Linked DNA regions of Homo sapiens: region 1 is linked to region 2. The links come from fine-mapping of genetic effects on gene expression. A gene starts in region 2. The other region holds a variant in brackets. All regions are shown on one strand. Distances are from middle to middle.

Region 1 (4,397 bases), 120 kb after region 2:
ACTTTTGTTCATGGGGAACCATCACCCTCCTGTTTCCCAAAGCAGGGAATTTAACTGAAAAAAAAAGTACATTGAGTAATATTAAGAAAACAAAAAAAGCATTTAAAATTGCAATATAATGTAGTATAAAATGAATATCTGAATCATGGGGAAGTATGCCATATAGAAGCTATTTTAGATGAGTAATCAGAAAAAAACTTTAGAGGAAGTAAGCAGCTTTTGTGTTAAATCTAAAAAGATATTGCTACTTTTTCACTATAATGGTTAGCATGTGATATGGTTTCGCTGTGTCCCCACCCAAATCTCGTCTTGAATTGTAGCTCCCATAATTCCCACATGTTGTGGGAGGGACCTGGTGGGAGATCACTGAATCTTGGGGGCAGTTTCCCCCATACTGTTCTCGTGGTGTCACAAGAGCTGATGGTTTTATAAGGGAAAACCCCTTTTGCTTGGCTGTCATTCTCTCTTTGCCTGCCACCATCCATGTAAGATGTGGCTTGCTCCTCCTTGCCTTCCACCTTGATTGTGAAGTCTCTTCAGCCATGTGGTACTGTGAGTCCATTAAACCCCTTTCCTTAATAAATTACCCAGTCTCAGGTATGTCTTTATTAGCAGCGTGAGAACAGACTAATACAGCATGTTAAACCAGTTCATCTTTTTAAAAAATAGAACACTGGCCAGGCACGGTGGCTCACACCTGTAACCCCAGCACTTTGGGAGGTCAAGGCAGGTGGATCACTTGAGATTAGGAGTTCAAGACCAGCCTGGCCAATGTGGGGAAACCCTGTCTCCACTAAAAGTACAAAAGTTAGCCAGGTGTGGTGGCACGTGCCTGTAATCCCAGCTACTCAGGAAGGCTGAGGCAGGAGAATCACTTGAACCCAGGAGGCAGAGGTTGCAGTGAGCCGAGATCATGCCACTACACTCCAGCCTGGGCAACAGAGAGAGACTCTGTCTCAAAAAAAAAAAAAAAGAAAAAGAAAAAAGAAAAAAAAGGAATACTTACTATTTCTAAGGATAAGGTGAGAAAGATCATCATATATACAGTTTATAGAAATAAAAAATTGGTATAAACTTTCTAAGAAGTACTTTTGCCATATTAGGAAACTTTTGGAACATGCATCAATTTAGTTATTTCACTTTAAGCAATCTAATAATAAATTCTTAGAAATTGGAATAAAGGTTTATATACTAAGATATTAATCACATTCCTTTTACCTGTTCCGCTGTCATAATGGGCATTTTTCAGTTCATCACACTCACCTCACTCTGGGCTGCCTCAGGGCCTTCGTTCTTGGTTTTCTCTCTTTGAAGTATTCTGACCCCAATACTTTCTTTCTTCAACTAAGTCCTATACATCCTTCACCTCTCACTCAGCTTAAATATTATTTTTCCAGAGCTGCATTTCTTCTATTTCCATAGAAAAATAGAAGTTTGGTTCTCTCTGCCTTCCCAGAAATACGTTTACATAGCACTCTCTGGTGCTCACTCTCAGCACATTTACGGATACATCAGGAGAGTCTCTCATCTCTGTAAACTCTAAGTTCTATGACAGCAGGAATTGTGTCTGTCTTTCTTACTGCATATCTAAGTGTCAAGGATGGTGCCTGTTGCAGAGCAAGCAGGTACAATTAGTAGGAAACAAGGAGATGCAGGGAAGGGGATACAAAATGGCGGATATGTGGGAAGAACAAGTCTGAAGACCTAATGCACAGTATGAAGACTACAGTAATAAAATTGTACTGGATTTTTGGATTCATGACTAATGAATAGATTTTTGCTGCTCTTGCCACAAAAACAACAAAGAAATGGGAAACTATGTGAGACGATGAACATGTTAACTTGCTCCACTATAGTAACATTTTTACAATCTTAATGTATCCCACAACATAATATTGTATACCTTAAAGATGCACAATAACATTTATTTTAAATACATTTGTTGAATAAATACACAGATAATATCAGTAGCAAAAGGTGAACAAGAAGCTAAAAATCTAAAAGGGAGGCCATTGTTTATAAATCACGGGAACGATATCTGGCCCAAACCTGATGGGGCTGTGTAAGTGATGATTCTTATACTTTTGGATTATTCTATCTCATTTCCACTCATCTTCCATGTTTTTATGACTCACTGATTAAAAGGAGATCACTATTTTAATATGTTTTGCAAATGAATACAAAGCATATATTGTTCCTTAGGGAGGGATATTAATGACAAATGAGATATACGGCTCTCCTCATATAACAAGGTAGGGGAAATATACAGAGATTTTTTAAAAAATGGACCAAGGGACCACAAGATGGAAAACAAAGATTGTTGGGTGTTTAAAAGTACCTTGAAGGATATCTGGCTCAATGAGCTCATCAAATTTATAACAAAAATAATAATAGTGAATATTAGCTTGACCTATGTCACAAGGACTGTACTAAGTGCTTTATCTCTCATGTATTTCTCATAATCATTTTGTTCCTGTTACTCCCAGTTTACAAATAAGGAAATTTAGGTGTAATGCCATTG[C/T]GTCACCATGCTTATGAAGCAACTTACCACCAACGAAGAAAAGTGACTTATCAAAAAGTACAGAGTTGGGTCATGACTATCAAAAACTCTGCTATGCTACTACTCACTGCAGTTTTTATTTTGGTTGGCTAGTGCGAGACAGTGCACACACACACACTTTCATATTTTCCAATAAAGTCATCTAATTTTTAAAACAATCTAACTTCAGCTACCCAAAATATACAACAGATCAATATGGAAAAGTATTAATACATTTATACTCTTTCAAAGATCCCATATTGTCAGGCTATTTGTAACTCTCACAGTTGTGACAGATAGAAGTTAAATAATTATTCATAATTAACTGACATGTTCATTCTTGTCCTCTCTTGCCAAATCTGTTCAATGTAATTAGATGATTGCTTGTGTTCCATTTTGCTCTGATGGGCTCCAATTCTGGCTGAGTTTCATGCATTGGAATCATATCCTGCAGTTATCATTGTTATTTTCTCCACTACATATCCCCCTGTAGAAGTGCACCATGCCAGGCATATCATTCTGTATATTTTACTCTGCTAATGACATCAAAGAATGTATCACTATCATTTTTCTGGCCCACCAAAATAACATTTACTCCTGTATCCTACATGTGATTAATATGGAAAGGATATGCTATGCTAGAATGCAGAACTCTCAAGTAAAGAACCCTGTGATAAATCTACTGTCTTTCCTGCAAACTACTGGAGTGCTTTTGGGTAAGTTGCTTTATTTCTCTAATTCTCAATTTACTTATCTATAAAATGAAACTAAAAATCCACAATGTCTTAGGGAATTTTTAGAGATTTGCATTTATAGTGCATGATAATTTATAAAAGAAAAGTTAAGATTCTTTTCCAAAGACAGGTTTTCCTTCGCAGAAATTGGGCAGCTGCTACCTTGCATACATTGCTAACATGGCTGAGTTTTAACGGAAGTATTTTTCTTACCATAATTCCTCTTTTGGTGTTAATAGGGGACTTCTAATTAGGTCTTAGTCTATTTGGGAAGGTTAATAGTAAAGTACTAAGCATTTATACAAACACAATCAAAGGTTGCTTGCAAGTGTAGGGAAAGAAGGCAACTATAAATATTCACTATTTTCTAGTTGAGTTTTTCCCTATTGACATTAGTTGTAAAAGATAGAATTTCATAATAGGAACAGGCGTGGAAGGAAAGGAACTATTTCAACTCATCAGAGTCACAGAGCCATCTCTGAAGTCCTCAAGTTTATACATGGGAAGTGCCAAAATTTGATCTTCAGTGTAAAATTTCTTCCATATTCTCTTGGATACACAGAGCAAATAGAGAAACTACAGCAGATAGACTTTTACAATGGCAAAATATGATGGAAAAGACTCTGGGCTCATCCTTCAGAGAAGCCTTCTGTGGCAGAGTAACTGTCTGTGGAAGGAAAAAGTAAATCATTTTTAAAAACCCCACTGCTCCAAAATCTGCTCTAATGCCACTGTCTTCAGGGCCAAGTATTCCATCTGGCAAGAGCAAGTCATGGAAAAGCACAAAGGTAATTTACCCAATTGGCCTGGGCAGAACATTGTTTCTTCAGTTATTTTTTGTGACTCTCCCTTCAGAGTGTGATTCAGACAGTTCTGCACCAAGATCAGTGGCTGTGCAGAGTTCAAATAGGTGAAAATACAGCTCTGGATGAGTAGCACTGTATTTTTTCTCAGTTCAGTCTCTCGTTCTTCATTGCTCAGCTCAGAGTTTCTCTCTCTGTCTTCATTGCTCAACTTCGTGTCCCTGCTTCCCAACAGGAGAACCCTATCTAAAATATTTATTTTTAAAAAATCTTGATATCATCCCATCATAGAACAAGATATACAGTACGGTGCTCAAGCTC
Region 2 (4,397 bases):
TCATTATCCTTTGGTTAATACAGAGTGAACTTGTCTACCCTCAGGTTCATTTAGCTTTAGGCTACAGCCTAGATTCTTAGACATCCGTCTATTTTACAGTATTAATTCAAGCTGTTTATAAATAACACATGACTAAATAGATGTTAAAGAAGACCTCCCTTGGGGCAGGCATTATTCCCACGTGCATGGCAACAGAGTTCGTAACAGGGCTTGGTGAACAGTATAATCTCAACACATTAACTGGGACCACATCGCCATTTGGCTATCAGAGCAGCCACACCGAGTGCATCATCTCTTGCACACCCTTTTAATTTAAGTACCTTGCTCAGTGCTAAGAAAAAAGGCACACTTGTTAAGGCAGGAGTAAGTGCGGATCTGCGAAACCTAAGCAAGCATATTTCACCAGCACCTCCTAGGGGCCACGTGTGGATATGAGGATGGGAGGTGGGGACTCGCACAGAACCTTTCCTTGAATTGTCAGTTTCACCTCTCCTACACACAAAAATCCACCCCGACTGCGCCGTCCACAATACCAGCTAGTTTGCTGAATTAGTTCAGCGACTCAAGGAGGCCTTACGAGGTTTAAATAAACTGCACAAAAGACACATTTGATCGCTCGAGAAAATAAACATTTAAAAAACTCAGTGGAAAGAAAGACTCCTAAAATATATCCTGTCCTTTAGGAGCAAAGCTTCGTTAGGACACCGAAGTACTCAGAAATAATAGGCACTTACTCTTCGGTTTACACACACACACACACACACACACACGGATTAGTTTATAAAGTTCCAGGATCCAGACCCGGTTAACACTGAAGTTGCTTTTTAGGGGTCTGCGCGCTCTCGCCTGGCTGCTGGGAAGGAGGGCTGGGAGGCGCTGAAGCGAGGGCAGATCTGAGTGTCTGTAGGAGTTGCTATTCCAAAAAAAATCATTACTCTCTAATTGTTCTGATTTTAGATCAGCAAAGCGTGCCGGGCGGTGGTGGAGAGACTGAGGGCGGACAAGGCGAGAGGGAACGAGCCGTCCACCCTTCGGAGAAGCCTAGGCGCCTTGTAAGTAATTCGCGAACAGTCGGGAGAACAAACAGCCAAGCGGCGCTGCAGTGGCCGCACTTGCGCGCGTCTCAATCCTGGGGGCTCTGCGCGCCCGCCCCAGTCCCTCGCCCCATTGACTCAGTGGCTTCTCCGGGCGCTGCAGCCTCCGCGGGGGGCTTCGAAGGGCCGAGGGGCTCCGGCAGAGAGGGAGTGGAGAGGGAGACGCGCCGGGACCGACGAACAATCCTGCCCCTGCGGCAAAGGTCTCTACCCGGCGCTGGCACCTCGCAGGCCCCTCGAGGAGCACGCAGGGCAAGCGGCCCAAGAGCGGGGGAACCGGGAAGTGTGTGGGGCTCCAGACGGAGTAGGAAGCTTTGCCCAAGGCCAGGCTGCAATCAGGCAGCCGCAACAGCCGGGCGCGGAGCTTCCCACCTGCTGCTGTCCCAGCTGGGCCGCAACTTCCTCCTCCCCGGCCCGGGCCCGACTCCCCGGCCGGGCTCCGAGGGTGGAGGGGGACGAGGCGGCGGCAGGTTCCCTCCGCTGGCAACGCCTCGCAGCATCCTCCCCTCCCCGCCGCGGTTCCCGGGGCCGGCCGCGCGGCCAGGCGCGCTGCGATTGGCCGGCAGCGGCCGGGGGCGGGGCCAGGAGAGCCGGTGTCGCACGGACCGCCTCAAAAGAGCCCAGGATATTGCAGAGCGCACTGGAGCCCTGGCCAGCGCGCAGCCTTCCCGGCGCCGGCGGGCTGGGTCTTGGGAATTCTGGTTTGCTTTGGCTCACTCGCTTTTTACAAACCACTGGATCTTACATGCCTCTGTACCCCCCACTTCCACTCCATGTCCCCATGCTCCTGCGCCAGCAACAGGTAAGGGCTGCTGTGTTTTCTTCCTTTTCGCTCGCTGCCGGTGTGTCCTGGGGAATGGACTCTGGCCGCCGTCCCCTACCCTACCCTGCCCCGCTGCTCCAGAGGTGCCCAGCTGTCACACTGCTGTAGCGCTCACCCACACTCCGGAGTCCCAGATCATGCCTATATAGTTTGTGTGCGCACCAGAACATCCCCAGAGCTAAAAATACTGAGACATGCTTGGAACAGTTGAGCAATAGAAACAGATTTCTCTGCAGCATCTGTTTGTGCTCATAACTTCCAATGCACCAGCTGTAGCGAGATACTGGGTTTGGAGGCAAGGGCGAGAGCGTCTGTGTTCGGTTCTCACTCTAAGTGGGGAAAAAAAGAAAGAAAACGTGGTTGCGGGTTTGGGGGTGCGTCTTGAGCCCTGGTCTTAAACCTTGGCAAAGCTTGGGACTCAGCACTATTCTTGATCCTTGGCTTTTTTTTTTTTTCGTCATTGCTTCAAGTATAGCTGTGAGTTTCAAACAGAGTGAGTGTCTCAAAGTTGCCTTCCTGAAAGAAGAGCGGGAGCCCGAGTTGGATTTGAGCCTGAGGATCGCAAAACTTTCACATTACATATCACTCTCCCCTAACCAATTTGTTATTTTCAGTAATAATGGTATTAATACCTGGCTTGAAGACAGTGTGGTTTTAGGAAAGCAAAATAGTCAAAACGACTTGATTCTGCAAAAAGATTGCATCATAGCGTGGATTCATCATGACAATTGGAAAAAAAATAGGGATAGGGAATGGGCAGTTTAATGTCTGTGTCTGGGTAAGGATATCATAGGATGATCACTAGGATAAAAGGCTGTGAATTCCGACGATTTTCATAAATTCAGATTTTACCTGTTAGGAAATAAGGTGTTATTTGAAAACCTCGGATATGCAAAGAAACCATATTGCGTTTTATCATTTGTTTTCTTTTCACATTAATAATCAATAGGCTGCCAGATTTCCTCTCGCCAACCAATGTTGTGTGTCTGCTGTACATTATCTGTACACTTGTTAGCGTTTTCCTGCTCACTTCCAAATGTTTCATTTCTATTTGCCATTATCTGGAAAAATCCTGGTGCTCAGAAGGGGTAAGAGATGTTAATTGAAGCATGGTGGAAAGGGTGAGGATAAGGTCAAGGCCATTTTACTTAGCTTCCTCCTCTCTCATATTTTAATGACACTTTATTTTTTAATGTTCTTGGTCTCCATAAGAAATATTTGATCTAAACTCATGTGAATTTTGCTTTTAAAAAAAATAAAAGAACACAGTCTTTCTACATCCTTTGGATTCCTGAGTTGTAGAATCTCTGGTTAGCTGTAGCGTCCTTGTATGACTTTTGCGTAGCCTGAAAGATTGAAAACAGCTACCTGCACAGATTAAGTGTTTCAGATTTTTTTAAGTGTATATTTTTATTTACCAAACATGTCTGTTTTTCAGCGTATGCAAATGCTGAGCAGTGCTACAAGCCAAGTGTCGTTGAGTATAAATGTTAGACAGGGGGCTCACACGTAGATAGATGGGTATCCCCCTCCCCTCCCCACTTCCCCCTCCTCCTCCCTCATGTTTATTGAGCTTCTAAGAGGCTGCTTTCCTAGCAGTTGTGCTCACATAGCAACATGTGCCCAGAGCACACTCAGGCTGTTCTATATGGCGTCAGCTGGGGAATAGCTGCTCTAAACACTCATTAGCAGACCTCTCTCTCAGCCCAGTACGTTTTCTTTTGCTATCTTTATTTCCTATCCTTAGAAACTTTCTTATTTATTGCACACCATGACCATATTACAGGACACATTTACTCTCATTTGATTTTTTTTTTTAGTTATTTATAAGCCATATTGGAAGTATTACCTATATAGTCAAAGCAATTTAGATCCCCCATTTGTACCATGTGATCTCCTTGACCTTACATTTATCCATAGCTCTTTCTCCTTTAACATCTACCTAAGTTTAAAACGCTGAACTATTTTTTTCCATTGCTTATGCTTAATTTTGGCTCAGCCTATAAATAGTCTTAACATGAACAGCACCACATGTAACCTCTCAATTTCCCAAAAATACTTTCTACATCATGGGTTATGGCCTGGATAAAAATGATTATTTGTGTCCATGAAATTTACATCTAGACCCTTAAATATTTTGGCTGGAAGGGAGATTTACACATTGTTCATCAAATCAAATTTCAATTCTCTGGATTTGTATCACTTAGTGTTCTCATCTACTCCTCATTGATTGCATCTCAAACATTATTTTGAATATATGCTTGAAATAAAGTTGCATGTAAGCCCTGTTTTTTTAATGATAGCTTTTCTCAGCTGCTCACGAATTGGTAATTGCTAGTGAGAGGACCGGGCAAGGAAGTTTTCTGCTTGCTTAAAGTCGCTCAGGCATGTGGGCAGGTTAACAGTAAAAGCAATTTTTACCATGAAATATTAAGACCGTTACCCCATCAAACCTTGACAGGTTCTAGACTTTAGCTATG

Evidence for each region. PIP is the estimated chance that this variant, and not a neighbour inherited with it, causes the effect.
Region 1: its variant is the best candidate, but not a certain one, in a credible set for the expression of KCNJ2 in whole blood (TOPMed, PIP 0.59).

What each region holds. Positions count from the first base shown.
Region 1 is chr17:70,286,209-70,290,605 of GRCh38, forward strand. No RefSeq gene overlaps it. Among named protein-coding and RNA genes, the nearest start is that of KCNJ2, 120 kb to the left of the region's middle. The variant C/T (reference allele first, on the strand shown) is at 2,522.
Region 2 is chr17:70,167,806-70,172,202 of GRCh38, forward strand. It overlaps KCNJ2 (potassium inwardly rectifying channel subfamily J member 2), which reads left to right and starts at 1,727. Exons shown (of 2, transcript NM_000891.3): 1 at 1,727-1,896. It overlaps KCNJ2-AS1 (KCNJ2 antisense RNA 1), which reads right to left and starts at 1,597. Exons shown (of 1, transcript NR_036534.1): 1 at 1-1,597. RefSeq lists a silencer at 1,323-1,782.